Linked DNA regions of Homo sapiens: regions 1 and 2 are each linked to region 3. Evidence: fine-mapped expression QTL. A gene starts in region 3. Each other region holds a variant in brackets. All regions are shown on one strand. Distances are between the middles of the regions. Region 1 has its middle 72 kb from the start of OGFRL1. Region 2 holds the start of LOC124901338 (a long non-coding RNA gene). Region 3 holds the start of OGFRL1 (opioid growth factor receptor like 1).

Region 1 (8,284 bases), 72 kb after region 3:
TCTCACTGCCAATGCTATCACTTCCACCCTGTTCCCACCCACTTTCTTTCTATGGTAAAAACATATTCATTTTTGGTTTATCCTTCCTGTATTGCTATTTTATAATACACACACACACACACACACACACACACACACACATGCGCGCATGTGCCTATCTGTTACTTATATATCTTTCTACCTATCTAATGCATAAATATCATCTCATTTCCCTTTCTTACACAAAAGGTAGTATACTACATATACTTAGGTGATTTTTTTCCAAATTATTGTGTATCCTGGAAATCACTTCATATCAATTGAGGTCTTTCTTAATCTTTTTTATTTTTATTGTGACTAGTATTCCATGTGTGAATTCATCGTAATTTATTCTACCAGTTTCCTGTGATTGAACATTTGGGTTGTTGCCAATACTTTGCTGTTACAAATAATGTTTCAGTGAATAACCTTGTGCATATGTTGTTAGTTTTTTCCCTCACATTCGAGCAAGTGTATCTTCAGGTTAATTCCCACAAGTGGGAATTGCTGCTGTGCCAAGGATAAACACATGTGTAATTTTGTTAGATAAAGCCAACTTCCCTGCATAGAGACTGTAGCATTTTGCGTTCTCATCCACAATATTTGGGAACCTGTTTTTCATAGCCCTGTATACAAAATGTGTTATCGAGCTTTTGAATTTTTTAATTCTAATAGGCGAGAAATGGTATCTCATTGAAGTTTCCATTTGTATTTATCTTATTATGAAAGAAGTTATAAAACTTGTTATATATTTGAGGGCCTTTTTTCTGTGAACTGGTTGTGTCCTTTGCTCATTTCTTAAATAGATTTTGAAAAATCTATTTAAGAAATTTTTGTATGTTAGAGCTACAAGTCCTGTGTTTATCTATGATAAATGCAACATGGAATGATAGTGGAGATGGTGCACATCCTTTTTAGGGAAATTTTTGAGACAGATAAACATAGCCAATATTTTGTCCCCATCTACCATTTGTCATTTGACTTTGTTTATGGTGTTTTAAGTCATTCAGAGGTTGTTGTTTTTTTGTTAATGTACTTGAGTGTATCAGTCTTTTATTGTATCTGGAACTTGAGTCATAACTTATCCATAGCTTACTAAAAAACTTCACCAGTTCTCTTCCAGTCCTTGTGTGGTATCTTAGTCAGTGTGTGCTGCTAGAACAAAATACCTGAGACTGGGTAATTTATAAAGAACAAAAAGTTTATTTCTTACAGTTCTGGAGGCTGAGAGTCCAAGATCAAGGTCCCAGCAGTCTTGGTGTCTGATAAGGGGCCCTATCTCTCCTTCCATGATGGCACTGTGTTGGTGCATCCTCCAAAGGGGAGATGTGCTGTATCCTCACATGGTGGAAGAAATGAAAGGGCAAGTAAGCCAAATGCTGTGCAAAGCCTCTTTTATAAAGCCTTAATCCCATTGTTAAAAGAAATGCCCTCATGGTCTAATATTCTCTTAAAGGCCTCACTTAATGCTATCACATTGGCAACACCTGAGTTTTGGAAGTGACATATTCAAACCATAGCATATTGTTTCATATTTGACATTAGATGTCTGCCCCATTTAGAGTTTGCTCTCGTCTATGATGTAAAGTAAGGGTGATTTTCCAGTTGTTCTAACATAATTTATTAAAAAGCCTGTGTTTTTGAACAATGAGAACACATGGACACAGGGAGGGGAACATCACACGCCAGGGCCTGTTGGGGGGTTGGGGGCAAGGGGAGGGAGAGCATTAGAACAAATACCTAATGCATGCAGGGCTTAAAACCTAGATGATGGGTTGATAGGTGCAGCAAACCGCTATGGCACATGTCTACCTGTGTAGCAAACCTGCACGTTCTGCACATGTATCCCAGAACTTAAAGTAAAATAAAAACAAAAAAAGCCTGTGTTTGCTCAGTGATTTGAGACACCATCTTTATCATATATTACATTTTTATATGTGCTTGTTTCTCTTTCTGAAATTGCTATAATACTTTTTTTTTTACTAATGTGTCTCTGTATGCACCTGTACCCTCTATTTTAAGTACAGAAGTTTGTATAACTTTGGTAATTGGTAAAACGTTATTCAGAATAAATTTTCCTAGCTACTTTTTTGTTTATTTTACAATATGAACCTTAGAATCAACTTATACAGCTCTAGAAATAAAACTTGTTGGATTTTTGTTAGATCACATTTAATTTATATATTCACTTGGGGAGAATTAACTTTTTTATGTTGAGTCATTCTATGTAAGAATAAAGAATTTCAGCCGGAAACACTGGCTCATGCCTGTAATCTCCAGGACTTTAGGAGAAGGTAGGAGGATTGCCTGAGCACAGGAGTTCAAGACCAGCCTGGGCAACAAAGTGAGACCCTGTCTCTCAAAAAAAATTCAAAAAATTAGCCAGGCAGGGTTGCACGTGCCTGTGGTCACACATGCCTGTAGTCCCAACGGCGGCTCAGGCAAGAGGACTGTTTGAGCCCAGGAGTTTGAGGCTGCAGTGAGCCATGATCTTGCCACTGTCCTCCATCCTGGGTGACAGAGTGAAACATCATCTCAAAACACACACACACATACACACACACACACAAACACACACACACAAGAATTTCTTTTAATTAAAATCTGCTTTTGTCCCTTTTCAGGTGTATTTAAAGTTTCCCTTGTAGATTTTTCACATTTCTTTTTAAGTTTATTCCTATTTTATATTTTTGTTGTTGTAAATGGGGTTTTTCTTCCATTATGTCTTCTAACTGGTTATTGTTTGTATATATGAGATTATTGATTTTCATATAATAAAATTGTATCCTTACCAAATTTATGTATATGTTCATTTTATTACTGACTATCTCAGGTTTCCCAAGAATATTATCTCATCAGTAGCAAATAGACATAGTTTTATTCCTTTATTTTTCCCCATTCTTGTGCCCCTGTTTGTTTTGTCTTATCTGAATACAATGTCCAACACTCCCAATTCAACATGAAATAATAGTGGAGATAGTAAACATCCTTCTTGGGGCAATTTTTCAGACAGATAAATGTAGTAGTGTTTCATTTTCCATAGTATAGTAAGTGCAACCTGCTAGGGCAATAGACAACTGTCCCCAGGCAGAAAACCTGTTTTATTTGTGATACTCCAAAGGGTGCATTTCTGTAGAGTTAACTTTAAGATCCAATTTTCTTTTAATGCAGAGATCAAGGAAACTTTCTGATATTACCTCAAAAAAGTCTTGAAGAAATTCTTTTGAATTATATGTAGCAAATGGCTGTCTTCTCTCTGTGTTGATGGGGTGGTCTAATAAAAGCCACAGAAGTCCTGGAAATAGGAAGAGGATATGTCTTTGTGAGATCAAGTCTCAGGGCAAAAGCCAGGTTCCAGTCACTGGCAGGATAATGGAAAACTAAATTCATCTGTGTTTTTATGATTGTAAAAAACATGCATTAGGTATTTGTTCTAATGTAGTACTTTCTTAAATGTGTATGTGATTAGAAATTCTTTGGTGTAGAAAATCTTGAAAAAATTTTTAGTGACAGGGCAGCAGAGAATATAGTTATTATAGTATGTTCTGGCCAAATTCATGTAATAGCAAAACTGTCATCTCAATTTCAAGTTGCTTCTGCATACAAGTGAATTTAATAATAACATATGGGGGTCTTTTTAATCACAGATGCCCCAGGATAATTATTAAAAGATTTTTCTGAAAATTGTATTTAGTAAGACTTAATCCTTGGAAGTAGTTTGGGAAAAAAGTTATGCTACACTAAGGTAGCACATTATCTGAAGTAGTAACCAAATTTACAGTAAAAAAAATTATTGCTATAAGAAGTTATCAATCCTTATACATATAAAGCAAGTCAGAGAAGCCTCACAATGTATCAATGTGAGGAGAAAAATGCTAACTAAAAAAAATTAGTGTTTTTCTTATGGACATACTTATATAAAAAAGTATTTTTTCCAAGCAAAGTGGCCAATAATAAACAAAATTCTGCATAAATCAAAGGTAGAAAAAAAAGTCCTTGAATGATAATGTTTTAATCAAAATTTCCTGAATTCCCCATTAACCTACTTATTTTGATGGCATATAAATGGAGTTCTATACACAAGGGAAAGTCAATATTTTGACAAAGAAAACTCCAAAAAGAGAATGGGCTAAAGTAAGTTATTTCTTGTTGCAAGTAAAAAATCACCTTTAGTGGTGACTACAATTGTATTTATATTTGCTATGTTAAAATAAGTTTTTGTTCAACAGTATCTGACTTTTTGAGGCAAAGGACTTCTGTATTGTGCTTTTATTTGAAACTTGTGTTATCCATATAAGTGCCTTAGTACTTCACTTTTTACATGTCAACACAGCTATTAAACATATATATGTTACCTACCATGTGCCATGATGGTGGATAGACAGTAAGTGGTCCTTATTTTCAAGGAGCTCACAGATAGTTGGCAGAGACAGAAAGGAAAACTGATTA[C/T]TGCATCTAGAGATTAAAAGGAAAGGCACAGCGATATCAGAAAGAAGGCAAGATCAATCCTGCAGGGGTCATCAGGGAAAATTGCACAGTCACAGAGACCTGCACAGCAGAAGAAGGGTCAAGAGAAGTACAGGCAGGGTATAGAAAAAAGAATAATTCGTTAAAAAATCATGTGTTTGGGAAATAGCAAGACATCTGGAATGGTGGCAACTCTTTGTTCAATGTCTGTTTTCCCAGATAGATTCCAAGGTCTGTAAAGCTAAGAACTATGTCTTTCTCATTCAGCATTATATTCCTTTCCAGTGTCTAGCATAGTATCCAGCACTTTTAAGAAACTCAGTGACTATATTCATGTTTTTCTACCCATGCTTCTTAATATTTTTATTAATCATAGAATACTTAATACATATAAAAGTTTATAGTATAATAGATACCCATATACCCACCACCCATATTAAGAAACAAAATATTACCAATCTACTTAAGGCCTGTTATGAACACGCCCACTTCTCCCCAACCAATAACTACTACTGTGAATTTTATATTTAATAATTTTTGGCTAAATTTTGTATTTAGCAATTTAGTTAATATATTTGTGGAAATATTTAAACTTGATATAACTATTATCATGATGTATATTTTTTCCTTGATTTTGTTTCTTTCCTTAACATTATGAGATTCGTCCATGTTGACCCTTGTATTAATTTTCATTGCTACATAGTAGTCTGTTGTGATTATACACAATTTTTCTTTATCAGTTTTGCTTATGATGGGTGTTTATTTCCAATAGTTTGTTCTTACAAACAATGATGCTATACATGTTCTTGTACATGTCTGTTGTATATGTAATAGAGTTTCTGTTCTAGGTATACACTTGGAAGCAGATTTGTTGATTAGTATTGCTCAGCTTTCTCACCAGTACTTGGAATTGCAGCCCTCCTCTATTTTCCCTGATTGGATATATGTGAATGGTATCTTATTATTTTATTTTGAATTTCCCTAATTATTTTTGAAGTTTTCATTTTATGTTTACTGGCCATTTAGATTTGCCTTCTGTGAGTTTCTGGTTCATCTCCTTTGACAATTTTACTTATATGCAATTCACCTTTTTAAATTGATTGAGATCAACTTTATTGATTCAGTTATCATTAATATGTGTTGTAAATATAATCCCTTTTTACTTTGATAAAAGATACAAATGTCAAATCTAATTAATCTTTCTTCTTTTGGGTTTGTGTCTTTTAAGTCTTATCTAAGAAATCCTTTTCTGGGCCAGGCGCGGTGCCTCACACCTGTAAACCCAGGCCTTTGGGAGGCCGAGGTGGGCGGATCACCTGAGGTCAGGAGTTCACAGACTGGCCAACATAGTGAAACCTGTCTCTACTAAAAATACAAAAAATTAGCTGGATGTGGTGGTGGGTGCCTGTAATCCCAGCTACTCGGGAGGCTGAGGCAGGAGAATCGCTTGAACCCAGCAGGTGGAGGTTGCAGTGAGCCAAAATCATGCCATTGTACTCCAGCCTGGGCAACAAGAATGAAACTCCATCTCAAAAAAAAAAAAAAAAAAAGAAAGAAAGAAATCCTTTTCTACCCAGAATTCATTTTATATATATAAATAGATATATAGATATATCGGTATTATGTTATGTTACATTATGTTAACTACATTATAACATAATATCGCATATGTTAGATTATATATTTTTAATCCATTTGAAGTTTATTTTTGTATGTGATATGGAATAGGGATCTGAAATCTGATTTTATTTTTCAAAAGTTGATAATTTCCTAAATAGCTCATTTTTTTTGAATAATTCATCATTACTTTATCCACAATGGCATCTTCATCATATATTAACATATATGAGTACCTTTCTTCATTTATCCTGTTCCACTGTTTTGTCTGTCCCTATACCAATTCCATACTTCCTTAATTATTTTTGTTTTATAAACTAAAAGAACCTCAATCAAATTAAGGCTCAATTTTTTTTTGGCAAGACTATCTTGTATGTGGTATTTTGCACTTCTACCAGGACATATATAACATCTGATTTCTCTCTTTTTTATGGTTTCTGTATTGGTAGATTACTTCCTTTTTCTTTCTCCTCCCTTTGTTTTCAAATTGCCTTTATAATCTTGGGCTTATTTTTCTTCCACATAAATTTTAAAACTGGGTTTTTACTATCGATAAATCTGAATATTTCTATCTTATTTTTCATTTCCCTGAAATTTTACCTTCTTTCATCTTTTCAGACTATTTATGATTGATTGAGTCTTTTAAAAAATAAAATAATTGGGCTTGAATTACATGGGGCCCCTTTGACTATTCTTTTATCTATTTTTGTTTTTTTTATTTATACATAACAGTTATACAATTTTCTGCTTACATGTCATAATTTGACATATTCATATAATCAAATCAGGGCAATTGGGATATCTGTCACCTTAAATATTTATCTTTTCTTTATGCTAGGAACATTCAAATTCTTCTCCTTTAGCCATTTTGAAATGTAACTGTGAAATAGAACCCTTATTTGAATTTTTTTTAAGTTAAAGGAATTAAGTTGTCAGGGAAATGGGAACATTTATTGAATATCTTTTATTGAAGATTCACTTTTAATTTTTAAAAATGTAATGATGGCATTGAGGTTGTCCTAAAAGAAGACCATTTCAAAATAATCTGTGACCTGGTGGTGGTAGAGATGGGATTGTTTAGGAGGAAATAAGTAAAGATCTAGATAAAGAATAATTGGTCATATATTGGTAATTGCTGAAGCTGGGCCATTGGTGATCATTACCTAGACCCAGGCATTCATCAGGAGTTTTTAAAAGTGATGATAGGTCAATTTGGACAACTTCTTGTACATTTATTTCCTGGAATAGGTATACAAAGAGAAACTCTCACAATAATTATTTTCATAGTCTGAAGCCTCAGGAACACTTTTAGGAAATAAAGAACTTATTCTTCTTTCTTTTTAAATTTATTTTCAAAATATTGAGATAGTTTCTAGACCCTGCAAAGGCTGTAGCCAATGAGTTTATTTATTTCTATAAATCATAAATAATTAGTATCAAATCAAACTTCTGGATTTATATTTATCTGATATGTTTTAATGCATTGCAGTTGTTATCCTTATTGAGGCATGACATTTCCCATCTTTGGCCAGAGCAGCTTAATCAAATGACTTTATGAGCCCCTGAGTAGAGTTTCTGAGAGCTTCCTTACTTTCTGGTATGAAGATGTTCCTGGATTATCCTGTACTTTTCCTGCCCCAGAGGTGTAATCTGCCATATTTCTGATGGGGGTTCATCTTTTTATTTCATTTATTCTCTACTTTGGTGGAATATATATGTTTTATTTCCATTTTTTAACTGACTTCCCAGAAAATTTTAACATATTTGGTTTACCCAAAACATATAGTCTTATCTTTGTAAATAATAGAAAGATATTAAAAGTTTAACCATGAACAATCCTCTATTAGCTTGCTAGGGCTGCCATAACAAAGTAATATAAGCAGGGTGGCCTAAACAATAGAAATAGGTTGATTCACAGTTCTGAAGGTTAGGAGTCCAAAACCAAGGTCAGCAGGGTTGGTTCATTCTGAGAGTTGTAAGAAAGTATCTGATCCAGGCCTCTCCCTAGCTTCTGGATTGCTGGCAGTCTTTGGCATTCTTTGGCTTGTAGAATCATCGCCTGTGTCTCTGCCTTCATTGTCACATGATGTCCTCCCTACATGTGTGTATCTTCTCCTTGGGTCCAAATTCCCCCCATTTGGCTGGGTATGGTGGCTCACACCTGTAATCCCTATATCACTTT
Region 2 (8,284 bases), 54 kb after region 3:
AAAGCAATAAAGCCAATAGGAGCTGTGATGGAACTCACCTCCCTGTCTTTCTCATACAAAGTCTTTAATGCTGATGGGTTTGCTCTTGGCCTAGCTCCTTCGCACAGTATTGTTTGCAACCAGAGTCATTCTGCTTGGCTGATTCCTTAATGCCCAACCTTATTCCCTTTCTCTAAAAATTCTGTTTCTCTAGAAATGTGGATGGAATAAGGATTGCTAAAGCTATGTGTTCTGGGAACACTGAACCACCTATTCCAAGACAGCCTTGAATGAACCTTCTCTTCAGTCTCCACAATCCAGGACTGCACAAGGAGGGTGACTCGTGCATTCTTTACTCCATATATGTCAGCTCCACAGTGTGCAGGATGTTCATGTACAACCTCACACTACTGGCCTGTCTCTTCCCATCTCTGAGTGGTCAGTATAGCTCAGTAATAGGTTCCAAATGGGAAGGGTGACATTTATTCATAGCTGAGCTCAGAAAATTTAGAACCACATAAAATGTCCAAATTTAAAACTCCCTGTTTTTACAATCGGGTTATAAAATAACAAACACCCTGACAATTATGCTAACTCTATCCTTCACTTTCACACTTGCCTGATCCATTACCCTATCTGTGAGTCCTGATGCTTTCCTCACCCTGGATACATCCATAGTATGCTCCCTGTCCCATTCCTTCTACAACAAGGGTGCTAACCAGAAATGGAGTGAGGCTCAGGTATTTATCCATTCATTTTTCTCCACAAATATTTTCTAAGGGCCATACACTATTCAAAGCACTGGAATGAATATGCCTGTCTTTCCTTCATTTTTACTTCCTTCTTTTCTTTTTCTTTCTTTCCCTTCCTTCCTTCCTTTCTTCTTTCTTTCCTTCCTTCCTTTTGTTTTCTTCCTTTCTCTCTCTCTCTTCAATTATTTTCCTTTCAGATTATGTAATTATTTTTACTTGGAAAATTTAATATTGTGTCTCTTTTAGCTGGGTAAAATATGTCTAATTTCAAAGTAGCCAAGTCATAATGTCCTATAGCACCAAAAAGTGTTTCAGCTCCTAGATTTCCAAATAATGTAATTTAGAAAATAGAAATAATTGCAGATTCATACACAAAAAAATTTATTTATTTTTTATTCTTTTTTTTTTGAGATGGAGTCTCTCTCTGTCACCCAGGCTGGAGTGCAGTGGCGTGTTCTCAGCTCACTGCAACCTCCGCCTCCCGGGTTCAAGCAATTCTCCTGCCTCAGCCTCCCGAGTAGCACACAAACAAATTTTAAATGATCCTATGGACAAAAGGTTCTGTTCTTTCCATTGGTACTACCACTATTGCACATTTATGAAAGTAATTTAGAGACATGTACAAGGAAAATCTGTCTCTAAAAGGCTTCCAAATTTAGTAAATTGGGATATTTTACAATCACCTGTTTTAGTTTATGATAAATACAATTTACTTGTTCATTTTATGCACTCTGGTCAAATTAGAGCAGTTAGTTCATGCTTTAATGTATTAACACAACACAGCAAAAAGCATATAAAAATATAAAAGAAAACACCCGAAACACATGTCTGAGTTCAAAGCCTATTAAGCATTCCTGTGCACCAGAAATAGAAAAGAAATGCAGAACTGAGCATAGCTGAGGCCACAGCCATGCTGGGCTCTTGTCCTGAAGTAGGCAGTGACAGCTGAGAACCAGGGAAGGAGAATTGAAGGTGTTCCATGGAAATTAGCATACTGGAGCCAGATTTGAAAACAGAGGCTAGATGAGGCTCCTTCTGGTAAAAGGAGGTTAAAAATCTGCAGCCAACCATTCCCTGGGGCCATGGCTTTGCAGAGAACTTCAGAAACAAGAGAACTAACACACATTGCACTTGAGGAAGGGTGCTAAATGCACCTGGCCTGGGGCCTGATATCATATGCCTGCTGAGACCAAGGGCAGGTGTTCTGCAATGTCATACAGCACTAGGTTTGGAGGTAGGGTTCAGGAATTTGGGAGAAGGAAATGCAAAACTGCTAGATAGAGAAATTTGAAGAAAGAGAAAGAAGGGGAGCAATTTCATTCAACATGATGCTGCAAAACAGAATTTCAAAGCGGGAGAATTCTAATGCTGTGAAAGTAATCCTGCCAAAAATCAACAATTGGAACATAATTTCATTCCAGGTGAAATTTTATTAAACTGATCTAGCCAAAACTTAAGAATAAATATGCTTTGAATGCTTAAGGGGAAAAATGGAAAAAACTATGCACTTTTTTTAAAAAAACATAAAATGTGAAAAGCAGACAGATATGAAACAAGCCAAATAAATTAAAAAGCAGAATGATTAGACATCTTGGGAGTTAAAAATCTATTCATTGCAATAAAAAATTCAAAGATAGGGTAAACTTTGGAACAGAGGCAACAAAAGAAAAACAATAAACTGAAAAATATTACTGAGGGATTTACCCAGAAGACAGCATAGAGAATAAAATATGGAAGAATGCTAAGCAGAGAGATCACACAGGGTAGTATGCTTGGGAGAGTTCCAATTTACATCTGTTGTCCTGATATAATTATTAGTGGCACTTCTTTTAACTCCCAAATGCATCTCCCCTGAGAATCAGGGAAGGAGAAGTGAAGGTGCTCCATGGAAGTTAGCAGACTGGAGCCAGGTTTGAAAACAGAGGCTAGGTGGGGCTCTGGTTATATAAACATAATTATATAAATATAATTTATTAGGCAATAGTTGTATGGTCACCTAAAACTATATAGGATAGTCTGAAGACAAATAGGACTGCCTATTTTTCTTTAAGGAAGGAAAAAGTCACAAGAAAGTAATATTTGGAGAGAAAAGAGCTGTGAGTTTTCCAAAATTGAAGAAAAATATGTCCTCAAATTGAAAATGAACTATAAAAACCAAGAAGGATCTACAAAAATATATTCATACCCAGACTTACCAAAGTAAAACTGGAATACATCAAGAATTTGGACATGTTTTTACCAGCTACAAGGAGAAAAACAGGTTACAACAAGAAATGGTAATTAAACAATAAATCAAGTGGGCTTCTCATTAGCAACCATAGATGCCATGAAACAATAGAGAAATAAATTCAATATAATGATGGGAAACTGGAAATTTAGAATATTATATCCAAATAACTTAGCAACACAAACAAGGTGCTGGAAAATAGATTCTCAATCTATAATATATTCCTGTTTAGGTTCTTGGGTTTCTGAGTAGGATAAAAATACTAGATAATTTCAGATATTTTTAAAATTATAGTTATAATTAATATATAATTCACAGCTTTGTATGTTAAAAGCTTAAAAATATTTTTATTGGAAATTAACAATTGAATATATCTATATATGGAAATGTAAAGGACCAAGACCAGAGAAGACAATTTTGAAGAAGGACAAAATCCCTCTAAGGGTTATCAAGATGTATTGCAAAGTGATGATATTTAAGACAGTTTTGCATTAGCATAAAAATAGACAAATAGAAATATGGAAAAGAATAGAAACATTTGTGACAATTTGTTTCATGATAAAGCATAATGCAAATGAAAAAAGAATGGTATTTTTAATAATGATTTTGGGTCAACTGGTTATCTATATGAGGAAAAAACACATTTTGACATCCTACCTCACATGACACACAAAAATCAATTCAGGGTTGGAGGTATATGCCTACCTGAAAAGTAACAATTAAACATCAAGAAGATAAGAGAGAATATCTTTATGACCTTAAGATGGGCAAATTTTTTTAAAGAAAAATAGTGATTAAAGGGACATAATTAAAATTAAGAACCTCTGTTCATCAAAAACCCCAGTAAAATAGTCATATGGTTTGGCTGTGTCCCCACCCAAATCTCATCTTTAATTGGAGATCCCATAATCTCCATGTATCATGGGAGGGACCCGGTAGGGAGTCATTGGATCATGGGGGTGGTTT[C/T]CTCCATGCTGTTCTTGTGATAGTGAGAGTTCTCGTGAGATCTGATGGTTTTATAAGTGTCTGGCATTTCCCCTGCTTGCACTCATTCTCTCTCCTGTCACCCTGTGAAGAGATGCCTTCTGCCATGATTGTAAGTTTCCTGAGTCCTCCCCAGCCATGCAGAACTGTGAATCAATTAAACCTCTTTTCTTTGTAAATTGCCCAGTCTCATGTATTTCTTCACAGCAGCATGAGAATAGACTAACACAAATAGTGGAAGAGAAGACCACCAACTGGAAAAGATACTTTCAATATTTTTACCTGACAAAAGATTATTATCCAAAACATATTAAATGTTTCTGTGAAGCCATATAAAAGACAGACAATCCATTAAAAAATTGGAATAAACTTGGATATTGAACAGGTAATACATGAAATACAATACATAAATGGGTGATAGCCATATAAAGTGCTCAAAATCATTAGTAATGAATGAATTAAAAATTGTGTGCATGCAGCTACACACTCATCAGAATAGGTAAAATCTAGAGAAACAGGTATTACCATATATTGAGGATATGCAGCAACTGGAGCTTTTATGCACTACACATGGGAATATAAATTGGTACAACCTCTTCAGAAAACTATTTGGCAGTAACTACTAAAACTAAACATAAGCATAGCCTACAACCCAGTAATGCCAGTATTTCACTCCTAGGTATATACCCAACAGAGTTGTAAATGAAATGTCAATGAAAGGCAGGTACAAAGAATGAAATGAAATTAGAGAATGTTTAAAACAGCATTATTTGTAATCCCCAAACACTAGAAACAATCCAAATGTCCAGCAAGAGTAGAATGGATAAATAAATTGTGGTGCATTCGTTCAATGGGATACTTCATAATAATAAAAGTAAATTAATCATCAATATAATCAATAACATAGATGAGTCTAATAACATAAGAATGAGCAATAGCAGCCAGATGCAGAGTTCATGTCATATCCCATTTATGAAAAGTTCAAAACAGACAAAGCTAATCTATGGTAAAGAAGACAGATATGGTTAACCTTAAGAAGAGAAGGGAGATACTGAGGGCGATTCAGGGTATTGGCAATGTTCTATGTCTTAATCTGAGTTATAGTCACACAGATGTATTTACTTTGTGAAAATATATTAAAATCAACATTTCTGCATATAAGTGTGCTCATCTGTATGTATTTGCTATACATGAAATAGAAAAATAAGGCATAATCTTAGGGTTACCAATATAGAAATAGAAATAATCTTGATATTTTTCAAACCTCCAGAGGAATCAAAAGAAGGAGGAAGAATAGAATGATTTGGAGGAAAAGAAGGAGAAAGTAGAGGAGTTGAAAAAAAGGAAGAAAAAGAAAAATGCAGAATCCTTTGTCAATCCAACAGAACACAGCAAAAAAGCAAAGAAAGTGAAAGGTAAGTAGATAGCACAAAAGGAAATGGTACAAATAAGCCCAAAAGTGTAATGTATCAGAGTCAATGTGGATAAAATTCACCTATTAAAAGGCAGAGATGGGATAATAATAACATAAATCCTGCTGTATCCTGGTTAATAAAAGGCACACCTAACACCAAACCAAAAGAAAATTTTGAACATAAAGTTTTGAAAAACTAAGAGGTTTTTATTAAACCTCTTTTATTAAACCTATTTTATTATTTATAGTAAGATGACGTGTTAGTCCATTCTCATGCTACTAATAAAGACATACCCAAGATTGGGTAATTTATAAAGAAAAGAAGTTTAATTGACTCATAGTTTTGCATAGCTGGGGAAGCCTCAGGAAACTTACAATTATGGTGGGAGGGGAAGCAAAAACATCCTTCTTCACATGGCGGCAGCAGAAGGAAGCGCCCAGCAAAGAGGGAAAACCCCTTATAAAACCATCAGATCTCTTGAGAACTCACTATCATGAGAACAGCAGCATGGGGGAAACCGCCCCATGATTCAATTACCTCCCACCAGGTCCCTCCCACAACAGGTGGGGATTATGGGAACTACAATCCAAGGTGAGATTTGGATGAGGACACAGCAAACCATCTCAGGTGCATTATAAAATAATACAGAACAATCCCCAAGCCAATAAAATAATCTTTAACTTGTATGCACTTAAACATAACATCGCACTAGGCAGAGAAAACTGATAGGATTACAAAAACTGACAAATCCAGAACTATAGTAGGATACGTTAAACACTTCAATAAGAAAAAAGGTCAAAAATAAAAAAGAAAAAGAAGAAAAAACAGGTCAAATAGAAAAAGCTAGAAGAATATAGAATATTTGAAATACTTGGTTGTACCTAGCCCTAGCTTAGCTCTCTCCCTACTCCTGCCTATCTTCCAAGACATACACACCTAAACCCTCAGGCTACTTAGAAGTGAGTATAAATCAATTACAAGCTCTCAAGCTACATCTTGTAGAGAAATACCCTCACATTCAGTTAATATGGGAAGGGACCTAAGGGGAATTCACTCAATCTATACCAGAACAAAAAACAGAGTTCAGATGCAGAGCTCACTGAAAATATGAACAAGATGAAAAAAGGATGACATGAGAACTAGGTAAGCAGAACAAAAAATAAGAATGAAAGGAACTCTATAGCAACAAAGAACACAGAGAAATATTCATGCTATAGAAAATCTTATTAAGTACATGAAATGAATAAAATACAAGCTCAAATGTAAGATGATAACAATACAGAATGATGTAAAAATGGAAATTGACAATATAAGGAAACAAATTGAAACTAAAATAACACCATTACAGAACTTATAAACAAATTACATGCAGAAAGAAATTTAATGGACATGGCTGAAAAATAAATTGCTCTACAAAGAAAAGGCTTGAGATAAGCACAGTAAAATCAACGGAAAAAGATGAACAGATTAGTAGAAATAGAGAGAAGATAATAGCTAGAGAGAAGTGACAAATATGCCATTATATAAAGATAATAGGTATCTCTGAATTGAAAAACCAGTAAATGACTCAGAAAAAGTATTCCAATAGAAAATAGAAAAATAATCCTGTAATGCAAGAATAAGACACTCTGCAACTCAAAAGTGCATATCATATTCCAAGACAAACATATTCAACCCTATTTTTCCTAAGTCATATTCTGTTGTTACTGAATTTAAGAATAAGAAAAAATTATTTAGCCATCCAGAGACAAATAATAAGCCTCTTATATTTGGGAGCAAAGCAGACTGGACTCAATCTTCTCTGGAGTAACATTCTGGGTTACAGGATGATAAAGCAATGTCTACCAAGTTCTAAAGGAAAAGAAATGTGATCCAAAAATATTGTATTCCACTAAGATTCCACTCAAGTATAAATACCACAAATAGATATTCTTAAATGTGAGAGAATATAGTCATGCATTGCTTAATGACAGGGATACATTCTGAGAAATGCATCCTTAGATTGATCTCTTTACTGTGGGAATAGTGTACTTACACAAACCTGATGGTATAACCTAATACACACCTAGGCCATATCATATAGCCTAGCTCCTAAGCTACAAACCTGTACAGCATGCTAATGAACCAAATACTGTAGGCAATTGTAACATAATGGTAAATATTTGCATATCTAAACCTATCGAAACTTAGAAAGGGGATAGTAAAAATGCAGTATAAAAGGTTTTTTTTTGTTTGTCTGTTTGTTTGTTTTTTAATGGTACTCTTGTATAGGACACTTAGTATGAATGGAGCTTGCAGGACTGAGGGTTGCTCCAGGTGAGCCAATGAGTGAGTGGTGAGTCAATGTGAAGGCCTAGGATATTACTGCACACTACCATAGACTTCATAAACACCGTAGAATTAGGCTCCAGTAAATTTATTTAAAACTTTTTTCTTCAGTAATAAATTAATCTTAGTTTACTGTAACTTTTTTACTTTATAAACTAATAATATTTTTTACTTTGTAAACTTTTAAGTTGTTGACTCTTTTTTTTTTTTTTTTTTTGAGTCGGAGTCTTGCTCTGTCGCCCAGGCTGGAGTGCAGTGGCGCCATCTCGGCTCACTGCAAGCTCCGCCTCCCAGGTTCACGCCATTCTCCTGCCTCAGTCCCCTGAGTAGCTGGGACTACAGGCTCCCGCCACCAGGCCCGGCTAATTTTTTTTTTTTAGTAGAGACGGGGTTTCACCGTGTTAGCCAGGATGGTCTCTATCTCCTGACCTTGTGATCCACCCGCCTTGGCCTCCCAAAGTGTTGGGATTACAGGCGTGAGCCACCGAGCCCAGCCTGTTGAGTCTTTTGAAATAACATCTAGCTTAAAACACAAATGCATTGTACAAAAATATTAGTACAAAATAGAACAAATAGTATAGTTAGTATAATATAGTACA
Region 3 (8,284 bases):
TGGATCAATATCCATCAAAAATGGAACTCAAAAAGGAATTCAAGACATTTATTTACCAGATGATTATGCAAGTGATTCTATGATAAAACTTATTTTAGAATATTTTACATAATACTAAGAATGTGTTAAGTTACTAAATCAATTCTACAAAGAAAATTGTCATTAAATTTGCAACATTTAGCTGTACTTGGAAGTCAAGTAATATTTATGAAAAGAAAGGATTTTAAAACAAACTAGCTTTCTAAACTCCATCCTTTATAATACCATGACAAGTACACAAAGGCATGAATAATCATCTGTTCACTGAATGATAATACAATGTGATATAAACATTTAAAATATATACACACAAAGCAATAAAATGCTCTTAAATGGAATGGTGTCCAATTGAAACAACTTATACATGGTAGTTTACTCATACTGTTCAAACTCTTAAGTAAAATTCCTATCACCATGAACTGATTTTTAAAGTATAAGATGTGGGTTAAAATAATCGATTTGCATTCCCTATATGTACTATTATAATGTATGAGAAAGTGCTGATGACAATCATGAAAAAGAAAAACTTTAGACCTTTAAGAGTCATTAAAAGCTTTGCCCCAAATTCTTTTCTCCTCAACCCCTGTCCTCCATCTGTGTTGACAGATTGGCATCCTCTAAGTAATTTTCACACATTTTTGAAGTGGTGTGATTCTCACTATTACTACAAGTACCGAGTTACTTCAACATCAAATCTTCTGATGCTTAACATTAGTTACGCTGTCATGTTACATAAGCAAGGAAAAGCTTGAATTCTGGTCCTTGCCACACGTTTCAAAATAGCTCTGCCTAGCAAGTTTCTGAATCTATTTAGCCTGAGATACAACCATATGAATCATCATCCTACATTTGTATAGAAGGCACTCTCCATTTACAAAGCACTTACATATATAGCGAATAGACAACAAACAGGGTTGACAGTCAAAAGGCATTATTTCATTTGATTCTTAAAACACACCTGATTGACAGTTAATAAGTGTTTCCATCTTAGAAACAAGATATCAGGGGCTTAGAGAAGTTGCACACCACCCAGAGTCCAGTGACAGTGCAAGAACAAGAATCCCAGGCTCTGGGTCCCAAGTCCAGGTCTGAATCAATCTCAGTCACACTAAAAAATGAAGGATATATGGAAACCTTGGTGTAGTATCAGTAGCCCAAGACTTGGAGTCAGAAGACTAGCAATCTGAACGCTGCTTACTTGTATTTGTGAGGCCTTAAGCAAATCATTTAGCTGAATCTTAGTTTTATCATCTCTGAAATAAAGATAATGACTCAAGCCCTACCTATTTCTCAGGATTATCATAAGAATGTCTGTGTCCTGCCAGCATCTGCTCCTGCTCTTCCAACCCCTATTCCCTTTGGACTCTCTACCCAGACCCCTTTCACCTGCTCAGACAAGGATTCTGTTGTTCAATATTGTTCCTCTTTCCTGGATCATCAAAATTTCCCTCTCTTCTCGATCTCAAACAAACATGCTGTAGTATCTTTAATCTTAAAATAAACATACAAAACATTCCTTGACCCAGGCCTACCATCAATTACAGATCCATATATCTACTCCTTTTTTATAGCAAATCACCACCAAAGAATTGCCCATACTTTGTTTCCTTCTTTTCTTTCCCCATTTTCCCCTGACCCACCTCAATCAGGCTTTTGTCCTCAGCACTCCAACAAAATAGTTCTTGTGAACTTCACCAATAAGTCTCCATCTTGCCAAACCATTTCTTAATGTTCACCTCAGGTGACCTCCCAACAGAACTGGGCCAATTAAAGCATCCCTCCTTCCTGAAACACTGTCAGTATTTGGCTTACAGGCTACTATAACTTTCTTAGTTTACTTTCTGTCTCATTGGGCTCCCCTTGTCAGCCTCCTTTTTTGGCTCCTCCTCCTCTTCATACCCTCTAAATGGAGGGGTGCCTAAGGTCCTCAGTCGTCATCACTCCTTGATAACCCCTTATCTTCCCATGCCTTTAAATACCATTGATCTCAGATGCTGAGGACTCTAGTCCTGGACTGTCTCCATTCATAGATGTAATTTAACTACCCAACAAATGATTAACTACCCAACAACTCTACTTGGATGTGTAATAGGATATCAAACTCAAGAGAATCGTTGATTTAACCTCCATAGCTGCATTCTCCCTAGACTTCCCTGTCTTGGTTAATGTCACCATCATTTGTTCAGTATTCAGAGGGACTAGGATGATGCAATGGAAGTGGTGTGAAGGAGTCAGTCTGGGATACGCTTTAAAAGTAGCTCCAGTATTACCTGCAAGTGGATTGACTCTGAGGAATAGACAACAAATAGGGTTGGCAGTCAAAAGGCAAAATTGAAAAGCAGATTTTTTGGGGAAGTCAGATGGTGATACTAACAAGAAAAATTAATCATTAAAAGGGAATAGGGAGGGCTGGTGTAGTCTACTAGTTACTGGGGTTGCAGTTAACTGACTGAACATTATTAAAATGTTTTATATAGATGGACCTGGTTAGTTGGATTGAATCTTAGCTGGTGTTTTTTGATATTCCAAATTTCTGTAGGAGGTTACTTAATTGGGAGACAAACGTAAGGGAAAAACATGAGAATGCAGCATCTAATAATTTAATAAGATTGAATTAGCAATGCAAAACAACAGCGGCAAACCAGACACAGGGGCAGATGGAAATTCAGAATTCCACAGGTCCAAGGCGCTGATATCAGTGATAGATAGACTTGGGTTTGCATCATCCTCTCCCTCAGTGATCTTGGGCAAGTTTTCCTTTCTCTCTAAGCCTCAGTTTTCTCTAAAATGGAGACCACACAGCAAACACCCACCCCAAAATTGTAGTTCATTTAAATAACACGTTTAACACAGAGCCTGCACTAAGACTTTATGATTTCCTCCTTACCTAAATAGAATTGATCATCAAGATGGCTGAGGCGGTGTTAGCTGTAATATTTAGGTTATGATTCCCCCAAAACCCTGTGGTCACATTGGACTTTGGGCTCCATTTTCCCAATCTCCATCGCCCCTAGCTGATAAAGAGAAGGGCCTAATGTGGAGCGGCAAACCTGAACCACCTCCAGGATGCACACTTCTTCAGGGGGTCGGCTACATATTTCCTCCTTTTTAAAGTTCCTGATTATTTTCAGTCCATCAGAGGTTAAGGGGCTTATCTCTTGACTAACCTCTCCTCCAAGCTGTATTAGTCAAACAGTTCAAACACAGTTGGATCAACAAGTCTTCTGGTGAAATAAGATTCGTGAAGAATGCCCTGAATCCTAGGTTGAAAGGCCTGAGTTGGGCAGAACAGTGACGTATGAACTTCAGATGAGGGCCTACACTTCTGACGGCTTAGACCCCACTGTAGGGGAGAGCGCTGGCTGCTTGCACTTGTAGCCCCACCTTATTCTGAGTAATTTTTTTTTTTTTTTTTTTTTTTTTTTTTTTTACCAATAACACACACTAGAGGGGTTGTCAAAATCCTCTATTTTTAGACAGGTTCCTCCCACCCCACCTTCGCATAATCCAGCTGCTCTGCAGAGGCAAAGAAAACACCCATTCAAGTTGGGTTCTGCCTTGAGGGACTTCCTCGCCGTGCCCTCGGCCAGGCCCCAGGCCGGCAGTGGGAGGGTCCGGCGCTTTGGGCTCCTGCAGGCCCCCGGGCTCCACCGGGAGACAGGTCAGCCGCGGCGCGGAGGGGTCGGGTCGCAGCGGCGAGCAGCCACCTGGCGCCCCTGGCCTCCGAGCGCGAGGGCGGCTTGGCACTTGCCCCTCTGGGGTGTCGGGGCGCCCCAGCCCGACCCGAGGCCACCGCTGGGCCGCGTACCTGCTCGGCGCCCGCCGCCTCGGCGTCCTCGTCCGGCGCGGGGCTGGCGCCGGGCCGCCCGCCGGCTTGCTCCGGGGGCTGCGCGGGCTGCTCGGACTCCTGCCCCGGGCCCTCGCTGCCGCCGCCCGGCCCTGGTTCTTCGGGCTCGGGCTCCGAGTCGGTCTGCCAGGTGGAGTCGCAGTCCTCCACGGTGGTGGGCTCGCGGAAGCTGACCCCGCCGAGCAGGTTGCCCATTGAAGAGGCGGCGGCGGGCGCGGGGCTGCGGGGCTGCGGGGCGCAAGCTGCGGCAGGCGCTCTAGGGCCCGGGCATGGCCGCGGCGAGGGCGCTGGGCGGCAGCCTAGGCGCGCCCGCCCCGCACTGCCTCAGCGCGGCGAGCGGCGGACAGGCACCCTCGCGGGGAGGAGCCGGCGGCCCCGGGACCGCCGCCGCGCGCGCCTGAACCCGCCCATCCGGCTCCTTCTCCTCCCCACAGGCGGGAGCTGCCGCCGCCCAGAGCCCCCAGGGGAGCCAACTGCGGCCCCCAGCCGAGCGCCACCGGCCCCAGGCCGCGCCTCCCTTCCACGTTTCTCCCCGGAACACCTGCCTTCACGCGGCCCCCGGCGGCCCCCGGAGTGGATTGGGGTCGGCTACTACCCTCGCCGCCCGGAGCCGGGGGACGCCCTCCCGGGGCATCTCCCAGCTGAGCGGGATGAGGGATCCCGCCCAGCTCCTGGAGCTGAGGACTGGCGTGGACGTGGTGTCGAAGAGGTGTCACCGTCAGCAGGCGGGTCCTGTCCACACCCCCTCCCCCTCTCCCTGGTCCAGGAGGAAGACACTTTAGCTGCAGCAGAGGACAAAAGCTGATGGTGCCGGGCACCATATAAACAGGAAATCCCAGCTGCCACAACTGTACTTAGGGCAGCCACCTAGAGTCCTTGTGGTCTAGAAAAAGTCAGAGCTATCAGTCACCTCATCTAATGAGCAATCGCTCGTGAAACAAAAGGAACAGTAACAACTGGACCATCACATTGATTTGCGGGTAACCTTACACCCACTACAAATTGGTGCTCCGTGTAGGCAAAAATCTCAGAATCAGTAGAACAGATGGGCTGTTTCTAATGGAAGAAGCCTCGGCCCTGTGGTCTGTTCTGCAAATGAAAGGAGGAGGGAGAACTGTGTTAGGGAAGTTCTTTCTTTTTTCTGTTCTGTTCTGTTCTGTTCTGTTCTGTTCTGTTCTGTTCTGTTCTGTTCTGTTCTGTTGTTCTGTTCTTTCTTTTCTTTCTTTTTGAGACAGAGTCTCCCTCTGTTGCCCAGGCTGCAGTGCAGAGGCGCGATCTCGGCTCACTGCAACCTCCGCCTCCTGGTTTCAAGCAATTCTCCTGCCTCAGCCTCCCAATAGCTGGGATTACAGGCATAAGCCTATAGAAGTACGTAAAGATAAGGTAGTATTATCAAATATGTGACCCAGAGAAAAGTGACTGTTGTAAAATGTGTCTTCTGGCTTTCTAACTAGAAGGGAAGCCTCTTTGCAGGCAGCCCCCGTCTGAAAGTGTGTCTGTATTTACAGTGCTGTCAACTTGGTGGATGCTCAGTAAACATTTGTTAAATATGGACTAAGAAAGATGAGCTAGATATTTGAAGATTAAACTGTTGAACTTGGAATGAATAGTTTCTTTTCAAATGTTTCATGATGAAGTAGGAAGCCAAATCATGTTAGATGGACTGTTTCTAAGGGAAGAATCAGGTAAACCAGCTGCCTATTCCATGGATAAATCAGGATTACCTAAGCTCTTCATGCACTGCAACAAGACATCTAGGCTGTAGCTCTGTCACTAATCAGTTTCTGACTTTAAGTAGGTCACATGAACCTAAACTTCCTCATTTGTAAAATGAAACCAGATCTCTGGGAGCCCTTCCAGCTCTGACCTTCTGTGATCCTATGACTGGGAAAAGCTCTGAAACTAATAAGAAATAGACACGGGGTGCACAAAAAGACTTTTGGGGCCGGGTGCGGTGGCTCACGCCTGTAATCCCAGAACTTTGGGAGGCCGAGGCGGGCAGATCACCTGAGGTCAGATGTTCAAGACCAGCCTGGCCAACATGACGAAACCTCATCTCCACAAAAAAATATAAAAATTAGCCTGGCTTGGTGGCGGGCGCCTGTAATCCCAGCTACTTGGGAGGCTGAGGCACGAGAATCACTTGAACGCGGGAGGTGGAGGTTGCAGTGAGCTGAGATCAGGCCACTGCACTCCAGCCTGGGCGACAGAGTGAGACTCCATTGCCCCCACCCCCCGCCAAAAAAAATACTTTTTGATTATAATGGCTTAGCAGAAGAAGATGTGGGGCAGCCACATACCACAGGAATCCAACTGCTCAAAGCTGGGAATTCGATTTTCCGTTGGTAGAAGACCGGAACACATTGCAGAAGTAGATATTGTCCATCCAGCCTTAAGTGTTCCGAGATTGTTGATGTGGAAAGTCTAAGGATAGTTGTTGTGTCCCAGGCGCTCCATCTGTTGGTTTAGGTGTATGTAGATTAAAGTTGGCCACATGTTCTTTGCTCTCTTCCCATTGAGAAGTAGTCTTATTCCTTACTCTTGAAGGAGCTGGCCTCAGTGACTTGCTTAACTATAGAATATGAAAGAAGTGATAGTCCAGGATTTTCTAAGTTAAGCCATAAGGAACCTTGCATTTTCCACTGGGTCTCTTGGAATATTCTCTCTGTTAGCCCCATGCTGCCATGTAAAAAGTTCAGCTAGCTTGAGACTGCCATACTCCTAGAAAGGCCACTTGTGTGTGGCCTCTGGTCATCCTCTGGTCATGGTACCAGCTGAGGCCTACCTTCCAGTATCCCCTGCTGGATTCCACGTTTTTGTTTTTTTTTTTTTATTGAATCCTCCAGACCAACCCATCCACCATCTGAATACCTTTCAGTGACCTCCATCGACCCTACTTGGAATAAAGGGACTACCCAGCAAAGCCCTGCTCAGATTTCTGACCCACAGAAGAGTGAAATGCAATAAAATGGCTGTTGCTTTAGGTCACTAAATTTTGTAGTAGTTTGTTATACATCAGTAGATGATGGAATGGTGAGAAGTATCTGTGTTTGTGCATATAAACATTTAAGTAACTACTGCAATTAAATCCTTCCCTTTTACACCACCTTTTGAAAAATGTGTCAATTTTTATAGGACCATAGATGATATGCCAGATTTTGCAATATATTTTCTAAAGAACATAATTTTACATGAAGCGTAACACCAACCTTATATAATATTTAATCAATTTTAAGTTTAGAGCAATAAGCACGACCACATTGTGCCCAATCTATGTGTTATTTTTACAAGTTAATGCTGAAGTTCTGTCATCCCAAGCTTCTATACACAGGAATTATCCTTCTCGAATACCTAAACTTTTTTCATTATCCCTGCCTTGCAGAGTATTTAACATTCCTGCATCAACAGTAAAGAAGGGTACCTTTGCTTCATATAAAAATCATCACTTAGCTCAGTGCCAGGCATCTATTAATTTATCAATATATGTTAGCTGTAATGATGATTCATTCAATATGTCTTTAAAGAACATATAATTCAACAGTAATATACACATGTATGGAACAAGGAGAAACTATTATCACAATGGACTATAATATAGTTTCTGACTCCCTGTAAATAGAATCTGCTCTAAATTAAGCAGATGCTATAGCCATGCTTCAATATAACTCTGTTTTCAACTTCGTTATGAAATCCTTTAAGGGTGAGGCCATTTTACAAAGGACAAAGAAACTGGTGCTTCAGGAACTAAACTTTTTTGGATGAAACCCAAATGTATCTGGCATATCTTGAATTGTCTTTTATAGTCAATCCTGTTTTAGGGACATTAACAAAGGTTTATTATTACATAATTTGAGAGTCTTTCAAATAAAAGGAAAGGGCAGATCAAGGGCCATTTTCCCCAACCTCAGGAGTTAACTCCTCAGTACCTCACAGGAACCTGAAATCTTTGGAGGAAAAAAAAATAGTATTATTTTAAAAATTAAAAATAATAAAGATGGCTCTCTAAAGAAACATCTGAAATTAGTAGTAACATGCTGTAATATTATTTTCCATTGACTGTAGCCAAGGGCCTCTGCTAGCACCCATGAGAACTTTGTGTTCTTGAGAATAAGACACCTTTGCTCCAGGGCTTAGTGAGCAGGGCCTGAACTGGAGTTCCCTCCCACCACCTTAACTGAACTCTTCATGCAGGACACAGCATGTACAACCTCACATAGAGTTCCTGACCAGACAAGACTTGCTGGAAATTTCCCAGGATCTTCCTTCCTTAAGGTAGGAGTTTATAATAGGTTATAATTTATGAAAACAAAATATTTTTTCCTCCTTCCTCCCTGCAAATATTCTATACTTTTTGTATGATTCTGAGATATCTTCTCCTGTATCCTTGCCAACCACTAA

What was found. PIP is the estimated chance that this variant, and not a neighbour inherited with it, causes the effect.
Region 1: its variant is the best candidate, but not a certain one, in a credible set for the expression of OGFRL1 in cerebellum (GTEx, PIP 0.55).
Region 2: its variant is the best candidate, but not a certain one, in a credible set for the expression of OGFRL1 in blood mononuclear cells (TOPMed, PIP 0.52).

The regions. Positions count from the first base shown.
Region 1 is chr6:71,212,799-71,221,082 of GRCh38, reverse strand. No RefSeq gene overlaps it. Among named protein-coding and RNA genes, the nearest start is that of OGFRL1, 72 kb to the left of the region's middle. The variant C/T (reference allele first, on the strand shown) is at 4,468.
Region 2 is chr6:71,230,586-71,238,869 of GRCh38, reverse strand. It overlaps LOC124901338 (a long non-coding RNA gene), which reads left to right and starts at 4,098. Exons shown (of 3, transcript XR_007059632.1): 1 at 4,098-4,327; 2 at 5,213-5,357. The variant C/T (reference allele first, on the strand shown) is at 3,925.
Region 3 is chr6:71,284,734-71,293,017 of GRCh38, reverse strand. OGFRL1 (opioid growth factor receptor like 1) reads right to left here and starts at 4,207. Exons shown (of 7, transcript NM_024576.5): 1 at 3,848-4,207. The coding sequence starts at 4,081. It overlaps LOC124901339 (a long non-coding RNA gene), which reads left to right. Exons shown (of 6, transcript XR_007059640.1): 4 at 8,078-8,158. RefSeq lists a silencer at 3,495-4,554.